2 linked regions of the Homo sapiens genome follow. The protein of the gene in region 2 purifies or fractionates together with the protein of the main gene of each other region. This does not show direct contact. Each region holds a gene or a part of one and is shown on either strand. Other genes may lie near its edges.

Region 1 (12,440 bases), on a different chromosome or scaffold from region 2:
GTCTCGAACTCCTGACCTCAGGTGATCCACCCACCTTGGCCTCCCAAAGTGCTGGGATTACAGGCATGAACCACCATGCCCGGCTACTTTGTATATCTTGAACTTCAGAGTAATTGTGAAGTCAAGTAAGTAACTAAAATAAGAAAGGATGAAAAACAGAGTGGTGATTACAAAAAGAAAATGACTATGTAGCAACGGAAAATCCTATTAAAGAAAACAGACTTCTACTGTAATCTTGTAGAAGTTGAAATTAAATAAAGGGGGTAAGCAGATACATTCCATAGCTCAGCTGAGGGCCCGTGTGTGGACACATGCTGGACACAGCCAAAAACATTTTGTGAGGATTTGGATGCTAACCTAAGTACCTAATGCAAGGTCTGACATGCTGAGGTCAGACAATGTCAACTTCCCATCTGCACAAGGGTCGTTTAACAGAAGCATGCACTGTGCAGCCTGGCTACCGCTGAGAGGATGGTCTTGGAGAGATGACGCTAAACCTTTCTGTCACCAGCAAACTTGTTTATGTACTTATTTTTCAAATGAAGACAATTGAAATGATTTACAAGATTCTTAGAGATAACTTGAGAAACCCGAAGTTTGGGATCCGTTATTTAGAATCCTGGGCTTTAACCGCTGTGATGAGCAAGTGGTAAGATACCAACTCCTTTGCCTCCGACAGTGAATGCCTGGCTTGGTGTGGGTGGGCTGGGGAGGGCCAGGGCTGAGGGAGCACCCTTGGACTGGAGGAGCTGCCACGTTCCATCAGGGAGAACCAGCTGCTCACCAGCTGTCCTTGCATCATTTCCTTGGCCTCCACCTTCCTGGAAATTCTGGATTGGGCCTATGAGTATGTTCTCTATGTATACCTATGTATACCTCTCTCTTCTGTGCTCAGGCTCACCCCACCCTGGAGCCACCCCAAGGGAAGCAGGAGGCCCCCACAGCTGCTCAGTCTCCCAAACACAAGGGCTTCTTATTGAGACCACCCCCTTCCCTGCTCTGGGGCCTAGCCCTGGAGCAGCTGCCTAGGCCTCTGTAGGGCTTCCCAAGAGCCCTCACCACGTACTAGTAAGGTACCTCTGAGCCGCCAGGCCCCAGCTCAGGGAGGGCTTAGTTCCCGCTCATCTGGCTGACTCCTCACCCACTCCCTGCCGCCCACCCCCCGAGGTTGGGCACACTGTTCCTGAACACTCCCTGGTGCCCAGGGCCTGCTTTACCTGCACTGAACTCAGCTGATGTGCACCTGCCACACCCTTCACCCACTGAGTGTCACCTGATCCCTCGTCTCAGGCCTCATGGTGTTTGCTGGCTGATGACCGAGGTGGCCCCGACACTAGGCCTTCACAGCCCTGATAAACCTGGGGCTGATCTTGTGCCAGGTCTCAACTCCCTCCTCCTTCCGCCAGCTTGGTGCCACCTGAGTCATGACCCTTAGGTGACCTGCTCACACTGCAGCTGCTCTCGGTCCCAGCCTCCACTTCTAGGAAGTTCTGTTAGCGAGGTTTGTGGAAGTCTCCTGTTACGCTGCCTCTGCATGTCCACCCGCGTCCTGCCCTTCCTGGTGCGCCCTAAACAATAACCCAGGGCCAACTTCTGTGCACAGACCTGCTTTCAGAAGTTCATCAAGTTGGCCAGGCACGATGGCTCATGCCTGTAATCCCAGCACTTTGGGAGGCTGAGGCAGGTGGGTCACTTAAGGTCAGGAGTTTGAGACTAGCCTGGCCAATGTGGTGAAACCCTGTCTCTACTAAAAATACAAAAATTAGCTGGGTGTGGTGGTGTGCTCCTATAGTCTCAGCTACTCGGGAGGCTGAAGCAGGAGAATAGCTTGAACCCGGGAGGCAGAGGTCACAGTGAGCTGAGATTGCCCCACTGCACTCCAGCCTGGGTGACACAGCAAGAATCCATCTCAAAAAAAGAAAAAAAAATTCATCAAGTCACAAGGTAAATTATAATCCTTAGCATCATGAAATACTGAATCTGGAAGTGACCCCCCAATATCTACTTTAATTCCTGGTTCCAGGACATCCATGTGACTCACTCAAGGTCATACAGCTAGTTGGTAGATACAGAGCTGGCACTAGCATCCAAGTGCCTCGTTCCTGTCCCTAAAGAACTAATGACTCCCTGTGGGTATGCCCTGTGGGTATGCATTAATAATCTTACTGAAGTTGTTCAAAATCTGGAATTCAAAATGAACTGTGTCCCATAGAATGAGTCTGGAAAACTTTGATCTGAGGTTTGACTTCTGCTCGTGCCTAATTCACTGAGAGGCTTTGGAAGGGTCCTTTATTCTCCCTTTCCCCACACATCAAACACGGACACAATGATGGCACACAAACGTCGGGACACCACGTGGGAATGCGGGTGAAGACTGCGAGCTGCTGGCAGGATGGCATCCTGTCATTTTCTAAAGTCTTCTGGTAAACAGACGGGACAGCTTGAATGACTAAAATCCACAGTCAGCCTCCAGAGATCACTCCTGCAATTATGTGTCAAAGGTGTCTCCAAATACATGCCAGACCCAGGGCCAGACCTGGTGGTTGTCCCTGGGGAAGGAGGTGGAAACACTTGGGTCTTCTGACCTTTATAATGAGAGAAAACTAATTGGGAAGAGGAGGAGTACGAAAGAGAAGAGGGGGACTAGACCTGGAGCTTGAAGATGAGGCTCAGGCCCCGTGACCACTGCCTACCCACTGAGCAACTTGGGGCCAGGCATGGCATCTCCACCTCAGCGTGCTCATCCACAAATTAGAAATGACAACAACATTCATCTCACAGAGTTATTATGAGAATAAAAGAGGTCATGTATTTGAATGCACTCTGCTCACTAGAAAGAGGAGCAAATGTTAACTTGTTATCAACTAATGGCCAAAGACCAACAGCTGGAGGTACAGTAATGAGAGAGAGGGCTCCCGGCTGGTTACTCCTTACCAAATAATTAATAAACTCTCTCTATTTAAATAGTAATATAATGAATTTGGGTTCCAAGTGTTTAATTTACATTGACCCCTGGGGGCTTTTGAACATTCGTATCTTGTTCAAGTCATCCTTTGCCTTGTGTAAACTTGCAGAAGCCCTAAGGCATCTAATGGGGATGACTGGGGGAAATCAAATGGATCAAAATGACAAAATGACAATTTTTCTCTAGGCTAATAACTCAATGAGCAGAAAGGAAAGTCCTTCCTTTTAAATGTATATGAATGTATATGTAGTTCACACGTACACTCTGACACAGATCTCATTGTGTCCAATGATGTGTGTGTGTGTGTGTGCCTCCAAGACTGAGACACATGTACTAAAGAGTGATACTGGCCACATCTACTCTGGGCTTGGAGGGTAACTTCAGCGAGTGCTGGATGCTGGAAGCGACCAGTGCTGGAATGAAAAGCTTCATGGAATGTGAGGATCAGGCAGTAGTTTGGGGAAGGCGGGCTGGGAAGGCATGGTGACACACTGTGCCACGCTCATCTGCAAACTTAACGCAACCTGCTGGAGACCTGCGGCTGGAAGCCCAGCTCTGGAAACCTGCATAGAGTATTTAAAGCCAGGGTATCAGCACGTTTATAAAGTGGGTTTATGATAATATAAAAAATTCAGTTAATAAGCCTGAGACCCAAAAGATGAACCCATGGGGTAACAAGAGTGTGAGACTGTGAGAGGCAGAGAAGGGCAGCTGACTTGAGCAAGGGTTTGTTATTCTGCTCAGATCAAAACTGGCACCAATGGCACGTGTAATTCCGTGCAGCCTTAAAGGGGACCGGAGGGGGCTGCACACTTGTCTGAGGTCAACCTTCAAAGAGACAGGCTTCCATTTATGGGCTCAAGCACTGACACACACACATCCACAGTAGCTCAGGGCTGCTGACTGAGTTATTTTTAGAGCCCTGCCGAGGACTAGGCAATACCAGGATCTTCATGATCCATTATATCATGATTCTCACACGCTTTAGCCTGAATCCATTTGGTGCACAAAAAATGCCTCATTTCTTTACAGGAGAATTTTTTTTTTTTTTTTTTGAAATGGAGTCTTGCTTTGTCGCCCAGGCTGGAGTGCAGTGGCACGATCCTGGTTGACTGCAACCTCCAACTCTTGGGTTCAAGTGATTCTCCTGCCTCAGCCTCCTGAGTAGCCAGGATTACAGGCGCCCACCTCCACGCCCAGCTAATTTTTGTATTTTTTGTAATTTTTTTGTAATTTTTTTTGTAATTTTTGTATCCAGCACTTGCTGAAGTTACCCTCCAAGCCCAGAGTAGATGTGGCCAGTATCACTCTTTAGTACATGTGTCTCAGTCTTGGAGACACACACACACACACACACACACACATCATTGGACACAATGAGATCTGTGTCAGAGTGTAAGTGTGAACTACATATACATTCATATACATTTAAAAGGGAGGACTTTCCTTTCTGCTCATTGAGTTATTAGCCTAGAGAAAAACTGTCATTTTGTCATTTTGATGACATTTAGTAGAGACGGGGTTTCACCATGTTAGCCAGGCTGGTCTCGAACTCCTGACCTCAAGTGATCTGCCCGCCTTGGTTTCCTGAAGTGTTGGGATTACAGGTGTGAGCCACCGTGCCCAGCCTATAGACAAGAAAGCCAGGCTGTGCACATCACATGTGACTGAGAAGAGTCTACATTTGAAAGAATAAGCTAAATTCCACAGAACTACAGTGAACCTTGAAAATCACTGACCTCTCCTCTTCTTTCTCAGTTTTACTTGTTTCTTCCTCAAATGTTGCCTCATTTTTGTTGAGCAAAGATCTCCAAATGGGTGACAGCCTTTCCTATTCTTGGGCAATACGCTTCTAAAGGGTGGGGTCTGATAGTGAACTTGCATTGTTTGGGATTTGTATGAGTCTAATTTCTTTAATTTGGCTATTTTAATTATAGCTGAATAAAAGTAAATGACATGTTCCAAACCCTTTTTTGGGCTTTCCCAAAACAGCTTCCTTTAAAGAATCATGAAATGAACCCTGATTGGCATCTCAGAGTGTGAGCCGTCTTCCAAGAAGGATGTCTACTGAGATTGTAAGAAGTGATCTTTGAGGCTAACCAAAAACCCACTCTAAAGTTTCCCTGTTCCTTAAATACAGAGATGTGAAAAAAATATACAAACAGAAAAAGAAGGGAAATAAACTTCAAGAGCTCTTTGGGAAGAGTATCTATCTACTTTTCATATTATTAAAATGTCACCTTTATGACACTTCGAGTTTGATTAAAACGGCGCACTTGCTTTATCTGGATGGGCCATGAATCCTGGTTAATTATGGTGTTCTATAAATAAACATACTCCACAACCCAACTCAGACTTGACATCTCTTAGCTGACATCTGAAAACTTACCCTTTGCATGTTTTCAAAGTGTCAGCTTGATAAACCTAAACTTTGTAGGGTTTCTGTGGATGGAGACTTTTATGGAATAAATAGATTAACAGATCAGTGCAGAAAACAAGGACACAGGGAGGAGGTACTGTAGCTGCTGTTCACTCCCGATTTCAGGTGACTGCTTTCTGGACTGAGGTGTCACACTGACCGAGGTTTGAACGTATACTTTGCAGCTTACAGGCTGTGAAGCCTCGGGGACATAACTTCACCTTTCTGAGCTTCCGTTCCCTCAGGTGGGAAATGAGGACAAAAATGCCCAACTGTGTAGTTGTCAACAGGATCAAACAAAAAAACACACATAATGCAGACTACAGAGCTTTGGAACAGTTGGTGTGAAAAAGGAAAACTGGATCAAGAGAAAGGTTAATAAACCAAAATAAAAGCACTTTTGGAAAATATAAACACTCCAAAAAGAAAAACTCAGGTAAGCATCTGTCCATTTAAGCAGAAACAAGTTCAGCGGTGGAACATGAAACTGCAGGTGGCGTGAGGTCAATGTCATGAGTTAGTGGCCAAGGCCGCCGTGCTGAGTCCGGCTTCTCCTCCGGGTGAGCCCGCTTCCTGTCCCCGTTCCTCAGCATGGCACTGCCCACGAGCAACTGGCACTGAGAAGCTCCGGCTGCAAATACCCATACTTCAAACATTTTCCTTTGTGAAAAGGAACAAGCCAGATACTATTCTTAGGAAGAAAAAAACCACAAGCCTTTTTCCTGCAAGTAAGCTCAGCAAGTTTGACCGTCCCCCACTCCCTGCATCCACACAAGGGTTTTCATTATTCACAGTGTCAGAATACAGAGCAGCGTTCTGTGCCTCCAAACCCAGGCCGCGCTGGCCCGTTCAGAGGGCCCGAGGCTCAAGGATGGCAGGGAAGCTCTACGGGTTAAGGCGCTTGGCATTTCCAGCGAGCTTTCTGCTCCTTATTTATTTATTTATTTATTTATTTATTTATTTATTTATTTGAGACAGAGTCTCACTCTGTCGCCTAGGCTGGAGTGCAGTGGCACGATCTTGGCTCACTGCAACCTCCACCTCCTGGGTTCAAGCGATTCTCCTGCCTCAGCCTCCTGAGTAGCTGGGATTACAGGTGCCTGCCACCATGCCTGGCTAATTTTTGTATTTTTAGTAGAGACGGGGTTTCAATATGTTGGCCAGACTGGCCTTGAACTCCTGACTTTGTGATCCACCCGCCTCCGACTCCCAAAGTGCTGGGATTACAGGCGTAAGCCACCGTGCCCGGCCTCCTTATTTATTTATATGACTGAATACAGCAGCATCTCCAGTCACTGGGTCTTCATTTACCAATAACTGGTAAATGAAGAATGTCCATGAGCATTTAAAAATAGTTTTAAAAAATCTCAAAATCTGCAAAGGCTATGACATGAGTCACCAACTTTGGTTATAAACTAATGTGGGGTGTCACACACCTTGAAGGTTGTTCAGTTGTACCTGCTGGAGAAAGGAAACACCACAAACCAAGGGATCACCGAGTGGAAAAACAGCCTTCCTGCTACCAAGCATTAGGCCCAGGACAAGGGCGAGGGCAAAATCATTTCAGGAGAGCTGCACGTAAGTGGATTTACAAACTAGTTAGCACATCTGCCTTGCAGAACTGGAGCAAAAATGGCTTGTAGCTCTGGAAAGGAAGCCACTTGGACCAGGAAGAACAGATAAAGAAGGATGACTCACACAAGCACCACACCACTGCAGGTTAGCTGAGCCATATGGGAGGAATGCATGCACACGCACTGGGACACACGTGACAGAGAGGGACACAGGACATCGAGGTCCTGTGTGAGGGGCAGCAGCAGCCAGGACGGTGTTTGTTTTCACCCAGGCAAGAGGCTGCCCAGTGAGCACACTGGCACGAGGACAGGCTGCTAATGAGCAGCAAGAAGGAGGAAGAATTGTCCCCACCTTGGCTGTCCCCATCAGGGAAGCCCTCCCTGCCTCCTGGCCAGGCACGTAGTCACCCTTCCCAGAGCACTCATGGCAGCATCCATACCATGACTGGCACATAGCCAATCACCCAGGGAGCTTTACACACACACACACACACACACACACGCGCATGTTTACACACATGCATATTCACACAAGGCCATGTGTGCACGCACACCCCTATATCCGAGGCTCTGGGGCAGGGCCTGGGAATGTATGTTGCTTCTGATGATCAGCCAGGTTTGAACTTCACTAGGACTAGATAAAACTCTAAAGGCACTTCCAGCATTAGAGGACAATGATTTTATGAAACATGCACATATTTTTTAAAGAGCCATTTTTTTCTCTGTATTTTCTCTTGGAGGAGGGATATGCTTTTCTCTCTTTGGAGACATGAATTGACTCTGTCACTTGAGGGATGTCAGCAGGTCACCTCTCACTGCCCCATTGGGCACACACTCCTGGGGCTGCTGAAAGGCTCAGCTATGAGGCAGGCGAGCCAGGAGCCCAGGCATGCAGGCTAACAGCCCGCAGCCCAGAATGAGGATGCGGGGGTGACCCAAAACCAGCACACTCCAAGAGTAAGACTGAGCCATACTTCTTCCCAGGGCTCCCCTGGATCCAGGTGGTAACACTGGCCTTTGGTGCACGGGGACTAGCAGTGGCCTCTCAGCATCCTGTTGGTCTCACCAATGCCACCTCTTTCAGGTTTGGTTGGTTATATTCCTATCGTCCTGACATCCTAACAGCTACCATGTAGTGGGTGCACTGATTGATCCCCCTCCCTGTGCACCAGGCACTATGCCAAGTGCTCTGTCACACTGACCAACTGTCACCCCAAGTTCTTGTGAAGTGCTCTTATTAGCTCCATGGTACAGATTGGAGAACAGGGTTAGTCATCTGCCCAGGAGTGCAGAGCCAGGAGCTAGGGTGTCAGCAGGGCCACCTGACCTCGAGGCTGTATTCTTAACCTAGCGCATGTTCATTCCTTAAGCCTTCTGGAACGAAGCCTCCTCCCACCCATCTTGCCTCTGGAGAGGAGACAGCAGAGTCCCAGCCCCTGGCCTCTGTGCAAGGCATCTCCTGGCTTACCTTGGCCAGCCTCGCTCGCTTGATGAGGTCGTTGAGCTTGCGCACCGCTGCCTTCTGGGGGAGGCTCTGGATGTCTCTAAAGAGGTCCTGGGCCTCAGCCTCGAAGAGCCGGCGGTTGTCCGTGTTCTGCAGGGGCTGCGCCCAGAAGGAGCCAATGTAGACGCGCAGTACCTCGGGCGTGTTGATGACCTTGCCTAGGGACCACATGAGGGCCCCGTAGACCCGCATCAGCTGCTGCGTGTCCACTTGGTCGGCCTTGTTCAGCACGACACGGATCTTGTCGTCCTGGCCCCGGAAGGCCTTGATGGCCTCTGAGAATTCATCTGAGATGTCCAGCTTGTGAGCGTCAAAGAGCAGGATGATCCTGTCCACCCTCTCGGCAAACCACTGCAGGACCTGGCAGAAGTCATAGCCTGGGTGGAGAGAAGGACACGTCAGTGTAGCCACTGCTGCAGGAGACACGTTTAATGGGCGGCTCAGGAACAGTCTCGCTCTCCAGCAGCTGCCAGGGAGAGAGCCCTGTCTCCAACCTGGAGGCAGTGGAGGCCTGGTGACATGAAAATCACGGGCTGGATGAATCCGGGTGGGAAGGACCTGGGGAGCCCTTCCACAGGAGGAGGGAGGAAAGAGAATGGGGCTCATGGTCACTTTGGGAATTGCTGACTTTCATATCTGCGATTTCATTTAGTCCTCATGAGTGTTTTATTTCACCTAATACAGACCTTTTGCTTGATGGCAGAATTGATCAATGGTTTTATAAAAACACAGGCCATGGGTCAAAAGATCTTACTTCTGAAAAGTCTCACTTTTCTGAAAGCCCCAAATACAGAAGAAAGAGAACCAGAGGCCACCTGGCATCCCATGGGGGTATCCAGTAAGCATAACAGAAGAGGCATCGCCTTCAATTAACCCAAGTTTGTAGAGTGCTGAGGAGGTCAAAGGTTGGCCCAGCCAGTGTTGTGATCAATATTTATCTTTGGACTATTTATAACTCAGGTATATTGTGAATATTTTTTTAACATTACGTATCACAGCCATTGTGTAAAATGGTCTCTTGCCAATTTCTTTTTTTAAAATGGCCTGGCCCACAGCAAATTCTGTCCAGCCTATTCTGACCACCTCCACAAATCATGCAGCTGCATAAACACTCTTCAGCCCAAGGTCAAGGCTCTCAGGCCTTTCCCCAGGGAGGCAGATTCCCACGAAAAGCAAACAAGAGGAGGCCAAGCCCACAAAGTTGACTTTTAATCTCAGTCTGACTAGTTGCAGAAGCAGAGTCTCAATCCAGCCCAGCTAGTGCTGAGATGTCACCTGCCTGACCCCCATGCTAGGGGTCGTCTCCCCTCTTCTTTTAGATTTTGAAAACTTTCAAACATACATAAACATCTGTAAGTCATATAATGAATGCTGATGTACCTACCACATAATTTTAACAAATGTTGACACTTTGCTTTGTTTGCTATTTCAGATATGTTTTAAAACCAAGTATCGTTTCTTTAGATAACAAAATACCATACGGTGGTGAGAAGGAACTAGATCTTCACTTGTCAACACAGGTAAATCTCCAGAAAAGAACAAGAGTAAAAGCTTAGTTTCAAAAGGACATATACAGCATGATAACATTCATGTAAAATGTTAAAATACAAAATACTCAACCATCTGTGGATACAGACTATAGCACAAATACAAAAATGTCAACATCGATTGTGAGACCCTGGTTGGCTGTGGGGGTGGAGAAGGTGTGAATCCAAGGCAGAGGAAAAAGTATCTGAGGTGAATAATCTATTAGGTGAAAATAAAGAGGGTCTGCGGACTAAGGTTTCCATGCATTTGAAGAACAGGTGTTAGAGGAATAGCTGAACAAGCAAACTGGATTCAGGTCCATTTTTCATAAAGAAAACAAGACAGTTGGTAACGCTGAAGCCCCCTGTGCACCCCTCCCTGAGCCCTTCCCCCCACTAGCAGGCCGCTGTCCTGAGTGTGGTGTTTATGCCGCCACACGCGTGGATACTTCCAGTTCATGCTTTTCATTTCTCTGTTCTGTCTCACTGCGGCACTCCCTGACTCCTTGGGGATAAGGAAGACAAAGGCAGTTCTCGGAATGTGGGCCAGAGTTTATTTTCATTGCTGTCAGCAGCCAGTTTAGGTCAGAGGAATATCAAAGACCTACTGACAGGGTCACACATAGTCAAGGTTTCACTCTGAGTTCTGTCCCTGAAAGGCCAGAACAAACTGCCTCCTAGGGTAACACTAAGTGCTACTGCCATTTGAGACAGACGTGTGCACAGACAGCCCTAGCTCACAGGATTGTAGGTCCCCAGCGGATGAATGAACTGGCTGTTTGCTGGGTGCCGGGAAGATGCTTTGGAGCCACCCATAGATGGACCTGCATGGGGACTTGCTTTTCCAGGAGAGATGATTGATTCACCATGCTGACCTGACCACTCTCCCACGTGGTCTTCCTAGTGATCAGATGGGGTATCTGAAGGTTCAGAAACAGATCAAAGAAAACGCTGTGCACATGGAGTGAATGTGAGTTGCTTTTGCTGAATACCCTTCCTGTTGGGTCAGGAGGTATCCTTTATGGGTTGTGGAGGCTGAAGGTGTGGCAGAGAGTCCCTCGCCCCATTCCTTAGCAAGCTGGGGCATAAGCATGTGATCTAGAGTTAGACATTCACTTCCTTCCACCAGAGAGGAGTGCTGAACCTTGGGGAAATGACACGAAGACACAGTGAAAATAAGAATTTACTCATGGTGGTGGCGGCTTCCTAACTCTTTTCTAAGCCTAGTTCTCCAACTTTCCCATTAATCCTGTGACAAATTCTCCAAAACATTTTCTTTTCTGCTTAAATTAGTTAGAATCAGCTTCTTTGGTTTGCTATTGAAAGTGATGATAAGGCTGGGCACGGTGGCTAATGCCTGTAATTCCAGCACTCTGGGAGGCAGAGGCGGGAGGATTGTTTGAGGCTAGGAGTTTGAAACCACCTGGCAATATGGTGAGACCCTGTCTCTACAAAAAATAAAAACAAATTAACTGGGTGTGGTGGCGTATGCATGTGGGCTCAGCTACTTGGGAGGCTGAGGCAGGAAGATCACTTGAGGCCAGGAGTTTGAGGCAGTGAGCCATGGACCCACCACTATACTCCAGCCTGGGTGAGAGAGTGAGACCCTGTCACAAAAACAAAACAAAACAAAACAAACAAAACCACAATTGGTAAACAATCCTCCCCTCACCCCCATTTAAGATTTCGGAATACCTCTTACTGTCGGTTCCGAAAGAAACCTGCCACCCAAACTGAAACACAGCTGCTGCTGCTAGCTGCGCTCGCGCCAACCCTGCCGTGCTTGTGCCAACCCAGCCGTGCAGATGCAGTCTCTCTTCCTCCCAGGGCCGCCTGGGTTGAATGGTTACCTTTGATTGCAACACTTGTGTTTAAACTTTAACTTAAATTTGAGTTCCTAACAGTTAATTTAAGCATCTTTAAAAAAGATGCCATTTCAATGCTATAGTGAAATCAAAAGTTATTAGGAACAGAGCTGCCAGATTTAAGTTTACTATAAGTGACGCCAATACTCATGTCTGGAGGAACAGGTACATATCCATATTTTCTTGTGTTAAAGCAACAATGAGAGCTTAATATAGTTCGAGAAGTACAGGTAGGCAGAGCTGTGTTTGTTCTGTCCCTGAGCAGGTGTAAGAGGACGGTCTGTCACACATCAGGCAACACAATCAAAGGAGTAGAAATCACCGTGTCCAAAAGAGAGCAAGGAATGATCAAAGCTGGGAGAGGTTGGTCTGCTTACCACCTCCCCCTACAAAGTTAGGATTATTTTGCTACTTTAAGCATTTTAAGTGTACTGCACAGTGGCATTAAATAAGTCACATTGTCGTACAACCACCACCACCATCCAACTGAAACTCTGAACCCATTAAGCACTAATTCTCCCCTCCTCTCTCTAGCCCCTGGCGACCACCATTCTACTTTTTGTCTCTATGAATTTGACTACTCTAGG
Region 2 (12,692 bases):
GAATAGAAGAACAAGTTTGAACCAGAGTGGAAATGTACATACTCCGGAGCTGCTGGCATAGAACAGCTGGTTGGCCCCACTGGGCCACTCCTGGGGCAGCCTCCATTGGGGAAGCAGTGAGGGATTTTCTAAACTAGGAAAGGTGAGAGGTGGCAGGGCCTGTCTGGGGGCCCCAGCACGGGACAGCTGGCTGGCCTGCAGGCTTTATTTATCCCCCTCCTCCCTCCCCACTCCAGGCCGCTGAAACCAGCAGAGACAGCTCAGTCTTCCCGCCGGGCAGCCTCCTGGGTGCATCCGCATGCAGCCTTGCCCTTCTATGGCTGAAAACTGCAGCCCTGACTGCCGGAGATGGGTGGGCAGAGGCAAGAGCAGGCCACGCCGCCTCTGAGGGCTGAATTCCCATGTGACCATGGGGTTGGGGGGATCAGCAGTCCTTCCAGCATTCATTGTCCCATGTGCAAATCAGGAAAAGCACTAATACCACCTCCCAAGCTGGTGGAGTCCCAGCTTGGTAAAGGGCAGGCCTCGCAGATATGAGGGAGCCAGGTAAGCACAGCCCCCTCCTCCTGCCCCCAACACTTTTCCAGGCAGGGGCCAGGGACTGTGAACCCTGGGCAGGAAAGAGTTGCTTGAGGACCTTGGAAGGGGTCTGGTGCCCCAGGGCTGGGTGGACGGGGAGAGGCAAGGTGACTATGTCTGGGCACCAGCTCCCTTTTTGCCACTCTGACCAGGCCACTTCCTTCTCCCCTGGGCTGCCTCCCTAGCTCCCCTTTTCTGCCACTGCCTCAGAGTGCGACCTTAGCAAGGTGTTTCACCTCTCGAAACCTCTGTCTCCCGGTCCGGTTCAGGACACTGCAACAGGGCGAGGAAAACACCATGGTACCCAGCCCCCAACAGAGGCTTTTTCCAAGACCAAATGAGACAAAAGCAACTTGTCTCAGCCGTTTATTTCGGTCACCCCAGAAGTGTTCCAAGAAGGCTGGGGTCACATTCTAGCTACTCTGTGCCCCCAACTCCCTACACAGTTCCCCAAATTTCGAAGATGCTCCGTAAATGTTTGTTGAATGAATCAATGTTGAAAACAGTGTGAAAACTGTAAAAAACCTTCAGGATCCTGCAGGTTTTCTTCCACCCCCATCTCTGTCCCTAATTAACATCTGTGTTTTGGTAACACATATATTTTCTGAGAGTCTTCAGAGGCCTGCGGAGTTCTACTTGGCTCTGGGGAAGATGAAGGACACAGAAATGAAACCCACATGGTCCACGCCCTCAAAGGAGCTTAAGCATGTCTGGATTTCGGGTGGTGCGGAGGGATGGCCCAGCCCCCACAACCCTCGTCCCAGCAGAGCCCTGGGCCAACACTGGGTTCACCCAGGCAGGGCCCACAGCCCCAGAAGCCTGAACCAATTTAGGAGATGATTCTTGCCCTCACTCTAGGCCACTCCTATTCTCACGGAGATCCTCCCAACCCATCACTGAGGACTTCCCTACACATTATGTGGGACCTGGGCCTCAGCTTCTCTCCTGTGCAATGCGCTGGCAATATTGCAAATGAATGCCTGGACATGATTCTGGATCTCAGAAGCGGAGCCACCCTCCCCTGCACATTTTTTCCAGCCACATCCCTCCCTTGCTTAAAACCTACGTGGTTGGCCAGGCGCGGTGGCTCACACCTATAATCCCAGCACTTTGGGAGGCCAAGGCAGGTGGATCACGAGGTCAGGAGATTGAGACCATCCTGACTAACACAGTGAAACCCCGTCTCTGCTAAAAATACAACAAATTAGCCAGGCATGGTGGCGGGCACCTGTAGTCCCAGCTACTCGGGAGGCTAAGGCAGGAGAATGGCGTGAACCCAAGAGGTGGAGCTTGCAGTGAGCAGAGATCATGCCACTGCACTCCAGCTTGGCTGACAGAGCGAGACTCCGTCTCAAAAAAAAAAACCTACGTGGCTCGGCCAGGCATGGTGGCTCACGCCTGTAATCCCAGCACTTTGGGAGGCCGAGGCAGGCGGATCACCTGAGGTCAGGAGTTCGAGACCAGCCTGGCCAACATGGTGAAACCCCATCTCTACTAAAAACTACAAAAATTAGCCAGGCATGGTGGTGCGTGCCTGTAATCCCAGCTACTTGGGAGGCTGAGGCAGGAGAATCGCTTGAATCCGGGAGGCAGAGGTTGTGGTGAGCCGAGATCACGCCACTGCACTCCAGCCTGGGTGACAGGCCTCCATCTCAAAAAAACAAAAACAAAAACAAAAAAAACCCTGCATGGTTCCCTGAGGCCCCTATCCATGCTCCTTAGCCAGCAAAAGCAGCTGTCAGCCATCTGTCCCAACTGCATCTCCCAACTCGCTACCTTGTGCTCCCCACTCAGCTACACAGCCTCCAGCTTTGCACACACCTCCCGCCCCTTGCCTTTGCTCAGATGGGGTCCCATGCCAGAACGTCCACCCAGCAGCCCTCACCTGGCTCCTGCCATCTCCTTGAAGACTATATTCTCCCTAGGAGGTCTCCCACCCCCAGCCCTCTGATAGGGTACATGGAATTGCCATCATCGTTTATACACGTTTCCCCTACAGGTGTGGGAGAGCGTGTAGGGTTGCCTGTTTTGTCGATTGGTACTTCCATTACCAGGTACAGTGTCCAGCACAGAGCAATATGACTCTACAAATACTGGTTGAATAAATGAAGAAATCAAACATTGTTATTGGGCCAGGCATGGTGGCTCATGCCTGTAATCCCAGCATTTTGGGAGGCTGAGGTAGGCAGATTACTTGAGCTCAAGAGTTCAAGACCAGCCTGGGCAACATGGTGAAAACCCATCTCTACAAATACAAACAAATTAGACAGGCGTGGTGGCGTGTGCCTGTGGTCCCAGCTACTAGGGAGGTTGAGGTGGGAGGATTGCTTGAGCCCGGGAGGTGGGGGCTGCAGTGAGCCATGACTGTGCCACTGCACTCCAGCCTGGGTGACAGAGTGAGACCCCATCTCAAAAAAATAAAAAACATTAAAAAAAAAAAAAGTAACATTAGTTACTCACAGTAACTAATGTTAAATGAATGCTTGTTATCTCATGCAATCCTCACATTTCTGTGAGCTGTGTCACATTATCAATCCCACCTCACAGATGAGGACACTGATGCCTGGAGAGAGCCCATGAGGACCCAAGGCCATGCGCCTAAGACATGGAGAAGCTAAACACAAACCAGGCGGCCTTTATTTACTTTGATGCCACCAGGCTCAGGCCCACCAAATGGCTTCACTTCACACCCAAGTCCCCTCCCACACTGGGTTTGTCCCTGCTTCCTGCCTCACTCCTGCCCCTCAAACAAAACAGAAGACCCCTTGGGCCCTCCCTTCCAATGCCCAGGTCTAACCCTGGTGCCCTTTTCCTCCATCCTTCTACCCCCTGCTCCTGGGCAACCAGGCATCAACCTTGTGCTTCCATTAGTATGGGTGTCACATGCCCCACAGCGGGCAGGGGCCCACCTACATGACCACCTCATCTTGTTCCCTTCTGTATCCACAGCCCCAAAACCCTCTCCTCCAGGGCCCAAGCCACCACCCACAGACACGGTACTGCAGGGTACATACAGGTAAACCAGGTGCACCTGCATCATGGAATCCTGAGGCAATCCCTTAGAAGCCTTCCCACATGCTGCCCTCGGACAGTGCAAATCTGGAGGTGGAACAGGCACAGAAAGCCTCCATCTGCCAGGCTGGGGGAGCCCTGGCAAGAGGGCTGCATGCGAAAGGGGTAGGGACCAGAACTCTCCTCCCTGATTCACAGGTGAGACCTGAAGTGCAAGGAATGGCACCAGATAAACTCACCCAGTGTTTTAGGAATGAAGGGACGAAAGGAGGAGAGGTTCCAGGGCTCAAGGCAGAGAGAGCAAAGACAGAGGCTCCAAGTCAACTGTTCCGGGGAGTCTGAATGCATTTTCCCATGAGAACCTCATTGGGCAGCTCTGGGCAGGAAGGGGCCATTTCACAACCTGCAGCACCCGGTTGGTGTCTATCAATCGGATCCTAGGAGTCTTCCCAACATTGCCGGCCTGTGACTCCTCTTGCGCGCCCCACCTGCGTGCCCCACTGAGGAGGGCTGCAGGGCCATCGAGCACACACCCGGGAGGCAGGGCTGCGTCCTAAGTTGGGGGGCGTGGGGAAAGCACAGGGTCTGTACATCCATTCATCCAACACCTGTTAGCCGAGGTCTCCTCTGTGCCGGGAACTGTGCTACTGTCCGGAGACAAGCTCCTATTTGGGGGTCAGAGAAGTGGGGGTTCACCTGCACACCCGGAGCAAGGGGCCACCCCGAGTGGGAAGCCTCGGGGGAGAGGGGAGGCCCGGCGAGCCCGTGGAGAAGAGTTTAGGGTAGGAGAGGCCCAGGGCCCCCAAAGAGGGCTCAACACCCCTTCAAAGAGGTCAAGGGCTTAGGGGTTCAGCGATCCTCGGCGGAAATCAGCGCTTTGTGGGCGGGGCCAGTGTCCCCGCGGAGGGACCAGCCTCGGGGGAGAGTTCGGGATCCCACGGGCGGGGTCAGGGCGGCCGGGCGGGGGAGGGGCGCCCTGGGCCGGGGTCTCAGGGACCCGCCCGGCGTCCGGGGCCGTCGGGGGGGTCGGCGTCTCCGTGTCCGGGGGCGGCGCCTGTCACCGCCCGGGCTTCGTGTTACTGAGGGGGGGCGGCGGTCGCGGCCCCAGCCCGCCCCGCGCCGCCCGCTCGCCCGGGGCCCCGCACTCACAGCAGGTCGGGCCGGTGCCGGTGCAGGATGGCGCAGAAGGCCAGGCCGTCCCGGAAGGAGCTGCTCAGGTCGCGGATCTCCACGCCGCGGTAGCCCTCGCACTGGCGGCGGCACCAGGCCAGCAGCGCGCCCCGCGGCCCAGCCATGACCCCGCGGCCCGCCCGGCTCCGGCTCTGGCTTCGGGGCCCCGGCTTGGCCGGGACGGCGGCCGCCGCGCGGGCCCGGTTTCCGGCTGCGGCTGCGGCTCCGAGCTCGGGCGCCGACCGGCAGGCGAGGGGAGGGGCGGAGGCGGGGCCGCGGTGTCCTCGCTCGGGCGCCCCGCGGCCCTGCCCTAACCTGCCCGAGCAGCGCCGCCGCGTGGCCCGGCCCGGCCGGCCGCCGCCTACTCCGCGCTGCCCGCTCGCCTCATTGTGGGCCGGTCGTGGGAGCGGGCGTCCCGCCGCCTCCGTCCGCGCCGGAGGCGCGCCCCACCCAGCAGCAGCTCCGCCTCCAGTGCGGAGCCCACCCCTACCAAGACGGGCCGGCGCCCCATCGCCCGCCCCTCGACGGCGCCGGGCTCCCGCTGCTCCACTGGGTGCCCGCGAAGCCCCCGCACCCGCCGCAAGCGGACCACTCCCCACGATGACTTCACCGCCGCGGCCGCCGCCGCGCCACCCACCGGGAGCCCTCCACCCTTTGGAGGCGGGACACCTCGTGCTCCCATCCGGCCTCCTTCCCGCTCCTAATGACCGCAAATCCCCCCTTCCACCCCTAGCTTGAAACTTTGGGGAGGCAGTTCCCCTGCAGACCTCAGAGCACCCCCCCCCGGATAGCCACCAGCTTCCCTCATCCCGGCTCCCCACCCTAAAGCACCGCTGAGCTGGAAGTTGTCATGTCCACCATCCCCTCCCCCATAGCTTGGCAGGGAGACCCATGCGCCCCTCCGCCACCTTTGGTCCAGGTGTCCCCTAGGTGATTCACTGAGCTCCCCTCAGCCCCTGTGTAAGCTCAGGGATCTCGTCCCTCCCCACTGCGGCCTGCCGGGTCCCCTCAGCCATGGTTAGTGTGGTGGTGGTTTGAGTTCCTATGGGAAGGACCTAGGCCAAGGAGGCCCCTGCCTGGGAGGCATACAGGCAGTTTGTATCTGGCCCTGGAACCTCCCCAAGGCTCATTCTCTATCTTTGCCGTCTTCAAAACCCCCGCCAGCCAACCGACCCTTCCAGCCAGCCAACCCTTCCAGCCAGCCGACCCTTCCGCAGAGGCCCCTCCTGACTCTCCCACAGATGAATCAGCCTCCATCTGCTGCAGAGGTGGTGATGTCACCCTGACCCATGCAATAGTTAGCTGGAGTGGGTATTTCGCTCCCTCCCAAGGGAAGGAACAGGGTCTTAGTCATCTTCATCACCCCTGAGCACTCAGGGGAGTGGAAAGATCAGGCATTTTGGAGCCCTATTAACCCAATCTCCAATCCTGGCTTTCCCCACTCCCTTAGTCATGTGATCTTGTGCCTCCCTGGACCTCAGTTTCCACGACTTAAAAATGGAGATAATACCTGCTTTACAAGGTGGCTGAGAGGATTAAGATGTAAAGTGCCTTACCCTTTAGTTATCACTCATAAATTCTATTGACTCCTGGTACTTGGTAAACATGATGAAATGGACTGAAATATTTTGTACCCAGATTGTCATCTGGGCCATTCTGGGTAAATTATCAAGGAGAGAGGCCGACTTAGGGAATTCTACCTCTTCAAAGTCCACTGAGTCCCAGTCCAGAATACTGGCCCAGGGCCTGGAGAACCCAGCTTGCCAATCTGGGCTGGCCTAACACTCCTGCAACTGGAAGGCCGCCATCTTGGCTCAGTATATGGACTCTCAGGCCACCTAGGAAGAGCATGGCCAGAGTGCCTGGCTAGCCCTCTGGACTTCTCACCAGCCCTGAGCTGCCAACTCCTGCCCTGTCCCCTGTGGGATAACAGTGGCAGGAAAGCAGGATTCCGGATGCTTTTTATGAAATCAGGGACTTGGGTTCAGGATCCTGACACCAGCATCCACCTAGGCCTTCAAAGACCACCCAGGACTCTCATTAAAACCTAAGGGGGGCGGGGTTGGGCACCATGGCTCATACCTGTAATCCCAGCATTTTGGGAGGCCGAGGCAGGTGGATCACCTGAGGTCAAGAGCTTGAGAACAGCCTGGCCAACATAGTGAAACCCCGTCTGTACTAAAAATACAAAAAATTGGGCCAGGCGCGGTGGCTCACTGTAATCCCAGCACTTTGGGAGGCCAAGGTGGGCGGATCATGAGGTCAGGAGTTCAAGACCAGCCTGGCTAAGATGGTGAAAGCCCGTGTCTACTAAAAATAAAAAAATTAGCCAGGCGTGGTGGCACGTGCCTATAGTCCCAGCTACTCGAGAGGCTGAGGCAGGACAATCGCTTGAACCTGGGAGGCGGAGGTTGCAGTGAGCCAAGATCACGCCACTGTACTCCAACCTGGGGGACACAGCGAGACTCCATCTCAAAGATGGTGGGTTTTTTTGGCTCACGCCTGTAATCCCAGCACTTTGGGAGGCCAAGGCAGGCAGATCACGAGGTCAGGAGATCGAGACCAGCCTGGCTAACACGGTGAAACCTCATCTCTACTAAAAATACAAAAAATTAGCTGGGCGTGGTGGCACACACCTGTAATCCCAGCAGGAGAATGGCTTGAACCCGGGAGGTGGAGGACGCAGTGAGCTGAGATCGCACCACTGCACTCCAGCCTGGGCAACAGAGTGAGATTCCATTTAAAAAACAAAAAACCAAAAACAAACAAAAGAAACCAGGAGGGATTATAGCCCTGTCCTCACTAGCCTAAAGGGCTCCCTTTAGGTCCCTGAAGACAGCTCCATATCTGATCCTGTTGCCATACTAATAGCTTACACAGCACAGCCTGGTCACCCCCATTAGCCATTTGTGGGCTTTATAAACTCATTATCTGAGTCAGCTCACAATGTTTCGAAGTAAGGACCTGTACGACCACAGTGTGTGACCGCAGGCCAGACAACTCACCCTCATGAACCCCAATTTCTTACCCTATAAAATGAGGATGATAATACTTGCTTTGCCTGAATCCCAGGGTTGTGGGTAACAAGGTGAGATAATGGATGAGAAAATGCTGTGCAGACTGTAAATCCAGGGTTCAGGTGGAAGGTGGGTCTGTGTGTTTACAGGTGAGATCAGAAGCCACAGAGATAGGTGAGTAGGGCACTTGCCCAAAATCATGCTATAATTTCGGGATTAGAATTGAGAGACTTGGGCCCTTAATTCAGTGCTGTTTTGTTTTATTTTTAACTATCAATTAAGAAATGGGGCCAGGCACGGTGGCTCATGCCTGTAATCCCAACACTTTGGGAGCCAAGGCCAGGAGTTCAAGACTAAACCAGCCTGGGCAATATAGGGAGACCCTGTCTTTTTTTGAGACGAGTCTCTCTCGCCCAGGCTGGAGTGCAGTGGCACGATCTCGGTTCACTGCAACTTTCATCTCCCAGGTTCAAGTGATTCTCCTGCCTCAGCCTCCCTAGTAGCTGGGATTATAGGCATGGGCCACCAAGCTCAGCTAATTTTTGTATTTTTAGTAGAGACACAGTTTCGCCATGTTGGCCAGGCTGATCTCAAACTCCTGAGTTTAAGTGATGTGCCCACCTCAGCCTCCCAAAGTGCTGGGATTACAGGCATGAGCCACCATGCCCAGCCTGAATACATCATTCTTATCAAAAATTTAAAAATAAATCTAAAGTTCCAGTTTGACTGTCTCCTTCAACTCTAGTCCCCTCCTAAGAAGTAGCTGCAGTTGTCGGTGTGAAACAGCCTTCCACACCTTGTTCACACATTTATAGTCAAGCATGGATTCAACAATATTTACTGAGCACCTGTTGGGGGCCAGGAGCTGTAAACAAGTAAACAACAAGGAGGCCGGGCACAGTGGCACACCCTGTAATCCCAGCACTTCGGGAGGCTGAAGCAGGTGGATCACTTGAGGTCAGGAATTCAAGACCAGCCTGGCCCACATGGTGAAAATCCGTCTTTACTAAAAATACAAAAATTAGCCAGGTGTGGTGGCACACACCTGTAATCCCAGCTACTCAGGAGGCTGAGGCAGGAGAATTGCTTGCACCAGGGAGGAGAGGTTGCAGTGAACTGACACTGCGCCACTGCCCTCCAGTCTGGGCGACAAAGTGAGACTCTGTCTCAAAAAACACAAAAAACAAAAAACAGGCTGGGCGCAGTGGCTCACGCCTGTAATCCCAGCACTTTGGGAGGCTGAGGCGGGTGGATCATTTGAGGTCAGTAGTTTGAAACCAGCCTGGTCAACATGGTGAAACCCCATCTCTACTAAAAATACAAAAATTAGCTGGGTGTGGTGTGTGCCTGTAATTCCAGCTACTCGGGAGGCTGAGACAGGAGAATCACTTGAGCCTGGGGAGGCGGAGGTTGCAGTGAGCCAAGATCGTGCCATTGTCCTCCAGTCTGGGCAACAGAGTGAGACCCTGTCTCAAAACAAAACAAAACAAAAACAAGGAGAACCTCAGGTGGTGACTGGTGCTGTGACAGAGAATGATGGGGACAGATAGCATAGCCAGGGAACACCTCTTTGAGATGGTAACATCATTTAGGCTGAAGAACACCTAACTCCCAGGGAAGCAAGCTGAATGCAAACAGGTGAGAGCTGTCAGTATAGGTAGAGTTTGAATCCTTTCTCTCTTTTTTTGAGACAGGGTTTCACTTTGTCTCCCAGGCTGGGTGCACTGGCACAATCACGGCTCACTGCAGCCTCCACCTCCTGGAGTCAAGCGATCCTCCCACCTCAGCTTCCCGAGCAGTTGGCACTAACAGGCATGCACCACCACACCCAGATAATTTTGTTTATTTTTTGTAGAGACGGGAGTCTCACTATGTTGCCCAGGCTGATCTTGAACTCCTGGACTCAAGCAATCCACCTGCTTTGGCCTCGCAAAATGCTGAAGTTATATGCACAAGCCCCTGCATCTGGCTGAATCCTTTCTGATTTCTTCCCAGGTAACAGCTGCAGGTGTCTAGCCATGGGGCAGGATCCTGGCAGGGAAGGACTGGCTAGGCCAGGGAAGGAAACAGTTCCATAAACAATTCTGCCTGTAGCCTAATAAAGGCGGGGAAAAGGAAACCAGAGGAACCACGGGAACCCAAAGGAAGCCCTTGACAGTTTGAGGCAGACGGTCGTGTTTCTCCACACACCATTCTTCCAGCCAACAGGCTTTGTAGCATGGCTTTGCAGGAGGGAGGTACAAAAGCAAGATTAAAAACAAGAACTTGGCCGGGTGCAGTGGCTCACGCCTGTAATCCCAGCACTTTGGGAGGCTGAGGCGGGCAGATCATTTGAGGTCAGGAGTTCAAGACCAGCCTGGCCAACATGGTGAAACCCCATCTCTGCTAAAAATACAAAAATTAGGCCAGACGTGGTGGCTCATGCCTGTAATCCCAGCACTTTGGGAGGCCGAGGTGGGCAGATCATGAGGTCAGGAGATTGAGACCATCCTGGCTAACATGGTTAAACCCCGTCTCTACTAAAACAAATACAAAAATTGGCCGAGCATGGTGGCGGGCGCCTGTAGTCCCAGCTACTCAGAAGGCTGAGGCAGGAGAATGGCGTGAACCCGGGAGGCAGAGCTTGCAGTGCGCCAAGATCGTGCCACTGCACTCCAGCCTGGGCGACAGAGCAAGACTCCATCTCAAAAAATAAAATAAAAAAAAAATTAGCCAGGGGTGGTGGCGGGCGCCTGTAAGCCCAGCTACTCTGGAGGCTGAGGCAGGAGAATTGCTCGAACTCAGAAGGGAGACGTTGCAGTGAGTCAAGATGGTGCCACTGCACTCCAGCCTTGGTGATAGAGTGAAACTCCGTCTCAAAAACAAAACAAAACAACAACAAAAAAAATAAAAACAGGCCGGCACGGTGGCTTACACCTTGTAATCCCAGCAGTTTGGGAGGCCGAGGTGGGCAGATCACCTGAGGTCAGGAGTTCGAGACCAGCCTGGCCAACATGGTGAAATCCCATCTCTATTAAAAATGCAAAATTAGCCAGGCATGGTTGCAAATGCCTGTAATCCCAGCTACTCAGGAGGTTGAGGCAGGAGAATCGCTTGAACCCGGGAGGTGGAGGTTACAGTGAGCTGAGATGCGCCATGGCACTCCATCCTGGGCAACAAGAGCGAAACTCCATCTCGAAAAAAAAAAAAGGCCAAGGTTTAAATGTTTTCCCAACATAGAATCTCATCATCCTTACTTTGGATCCAGTGTGCTGAGAAACATTTTAAGACTCCGTCTCAAAAAAGAAAAAAATTATTTTTTTCACCCATGGAATCTAAAAAAGTTGATCTCATAGAAATAGAGAGTAGAGGCCTGGTGTGGTGGCTCATACCTGTAATCCCAGCTACTTGGGAGGCTGAGGCAGGAGGATCGCTTGAGCCAGGGAGGTGGAGGTTTCAGTGAGCTGTGATTGCACCACTGCACTCAAGCCTGGGTGATGGATTAAGACCCTGTCTCAAAAAAAAAAAAAGAAAAGAAAAGAAAGAAATAGCTAGTAGAATGGTAGTTACCAGGGGCTGGTGGGTAGGGGGAGTGGTTGGGGAGATGTTGGTCAAAGGGTGCAAAATTTCAGTTAGATAGGAGGAATAAGTTCAAAGGATCTATTGTACAATGTGGTGACTATTGTTTGTTTGTTTGTTTGTTTGAGATGGAGTCTTGCTTTGTCGCCCAGGCTGTAGTGCAGTGGTGCGAACTCGGCTCACTGCAAGCTCTGCCTCCCGGGTTCATGCCATTCTCCTGCCTCAACCTCCCCAGCAGCTGGGAATACAGGCGCACACCACCTTGCCCGGCTAATTTTTTTGTATTTTTAGTAGAGGCGGGGTTTCACCATGTTAGCCAGGATGATCTCGATCTCCTAACATCGTGATCCACCTGCCTTGGCCTCCCAAAGTGCTGGGATTACAGGCGTGAGCCACGGCACCCTGCCTATGGTGACTATTGTTAATGACAATACATTGTGGGGTTTTTTGTTTTTTGTTTTTCTGAGACAGAGTCTCACTCTGTTACCCAGGCTAGAGTGCAATGGCATATCTCAGCTCACTGCAACCTCCACCTCCTGGGTTCAAGTGATTCTCCTGCCTCAGCCTCCTAAGTAGCTGGGATTACAGGCACTCGTCACTACGTCTGGCTAATTTTTGTATTTTTAGTAGAGACGGGGTTTCACCATGTTGGCCAGGCTGGTCTTGAACTCCTGACCTCATGATCCACATGCCTTGGCTTCCCAAAATATTGGGATTATAGGCATAAGCCACCCTGCCCAGCCGATTCTAGGATTCTTAGGGTGGAATTCTCCAAGTTCCATGGCTGTTTTCTGTGAATCTGACCACTCTGCTCTTCTCTCTTCTACCCAGTCTGTGCCCCAGGAATCAGGGCCCTGCCCAGGTTCTTGGCTCTGAGCTGCTCCCTGGGGGGCAGCCGGGCAGAGCAGTGGACAATGGAAGCATTGTGGGACCTCTGGAGCTGGGGCCTGGGGCAGTGGAAGGCGCTGGTCGCTGGAGTGGCAGTTGCTTCACCGTGTTCCCTCCTTGCTGGGCCAGAGGCATGCCTAGAACATGCCAGGACGGTACCCTGAGCCCCGCCCCTGCCCGCCTGGGTGAGGCCTGGGTCTTCTGGAATCCCAGCTATGCCTGAGGACAGACAGCTATTCCAAGCCTTTGTTCATAGACCATCCTGCCCTGGCAGATACACATTCTGGAAAATACACCTGGGACTGGGCAAGTGGTCTTGCCTCCCTACCCCAAAACTGAACTATCCTCCAACTAAACCCTCCAGAACAGAGAGGACATGTGCTGGCTCTCACTGGGCGGGTGCTGTCTGAGCTGGGAAACCCTCACACTTGTCTGGGGCTCCACGAGGGGGCAGGTCAAAGAAGCCAC

What was found.
Region 1: the proteins of MICALL1 (region 2) and EHD4 purify together in Homo sapiens (affinity purification with mass spectrometry; 2 studies listed by BioGRID and IntAct, with this or other methods). This does not show direct contact.

Annotation. Positions count from the first base shown.
Region 1 is NC_000015.10:41,910,784-41,923,223, forward strand, and holds part of EHD4 (EH domain-containing protein 4), read right to left. Parts: intron 10,959-12,440; exon of another isoform or gene 10,634-10,958; intron 8,840-10,633; coding exon 8,427-8,839; intron 1-8,426. UniProt on the Homo sapiens protein: ATP- and membrane-binding protein that probably controls membrane reorganization/tubulation upon ATP hydrolysis. Plays a role in early endosomal transport.
Region 2 is NC_000022.11:37,898,617-37,911,308, reverse strand, and holds the start of MICALL1 (MICAL-like protein 1), read right to left. Parts: upstream 5,013-12,692; 5' UTR 4,887-5,012; coding exon 4,741-4,886; intron 4,479-4,740; exon of another isoform or gene 3,831-4,478; intron 1-3,830. UniProt on the Homo sapiens protein: Lipid-binding protein with higher affinity for phosphatidic acid, a lipid enriched in recycling endosome membranes. On endosome membranes, acts as a downstream effector of Rab proteins recruiting cytosolic proteins to regulate membrane tubulation.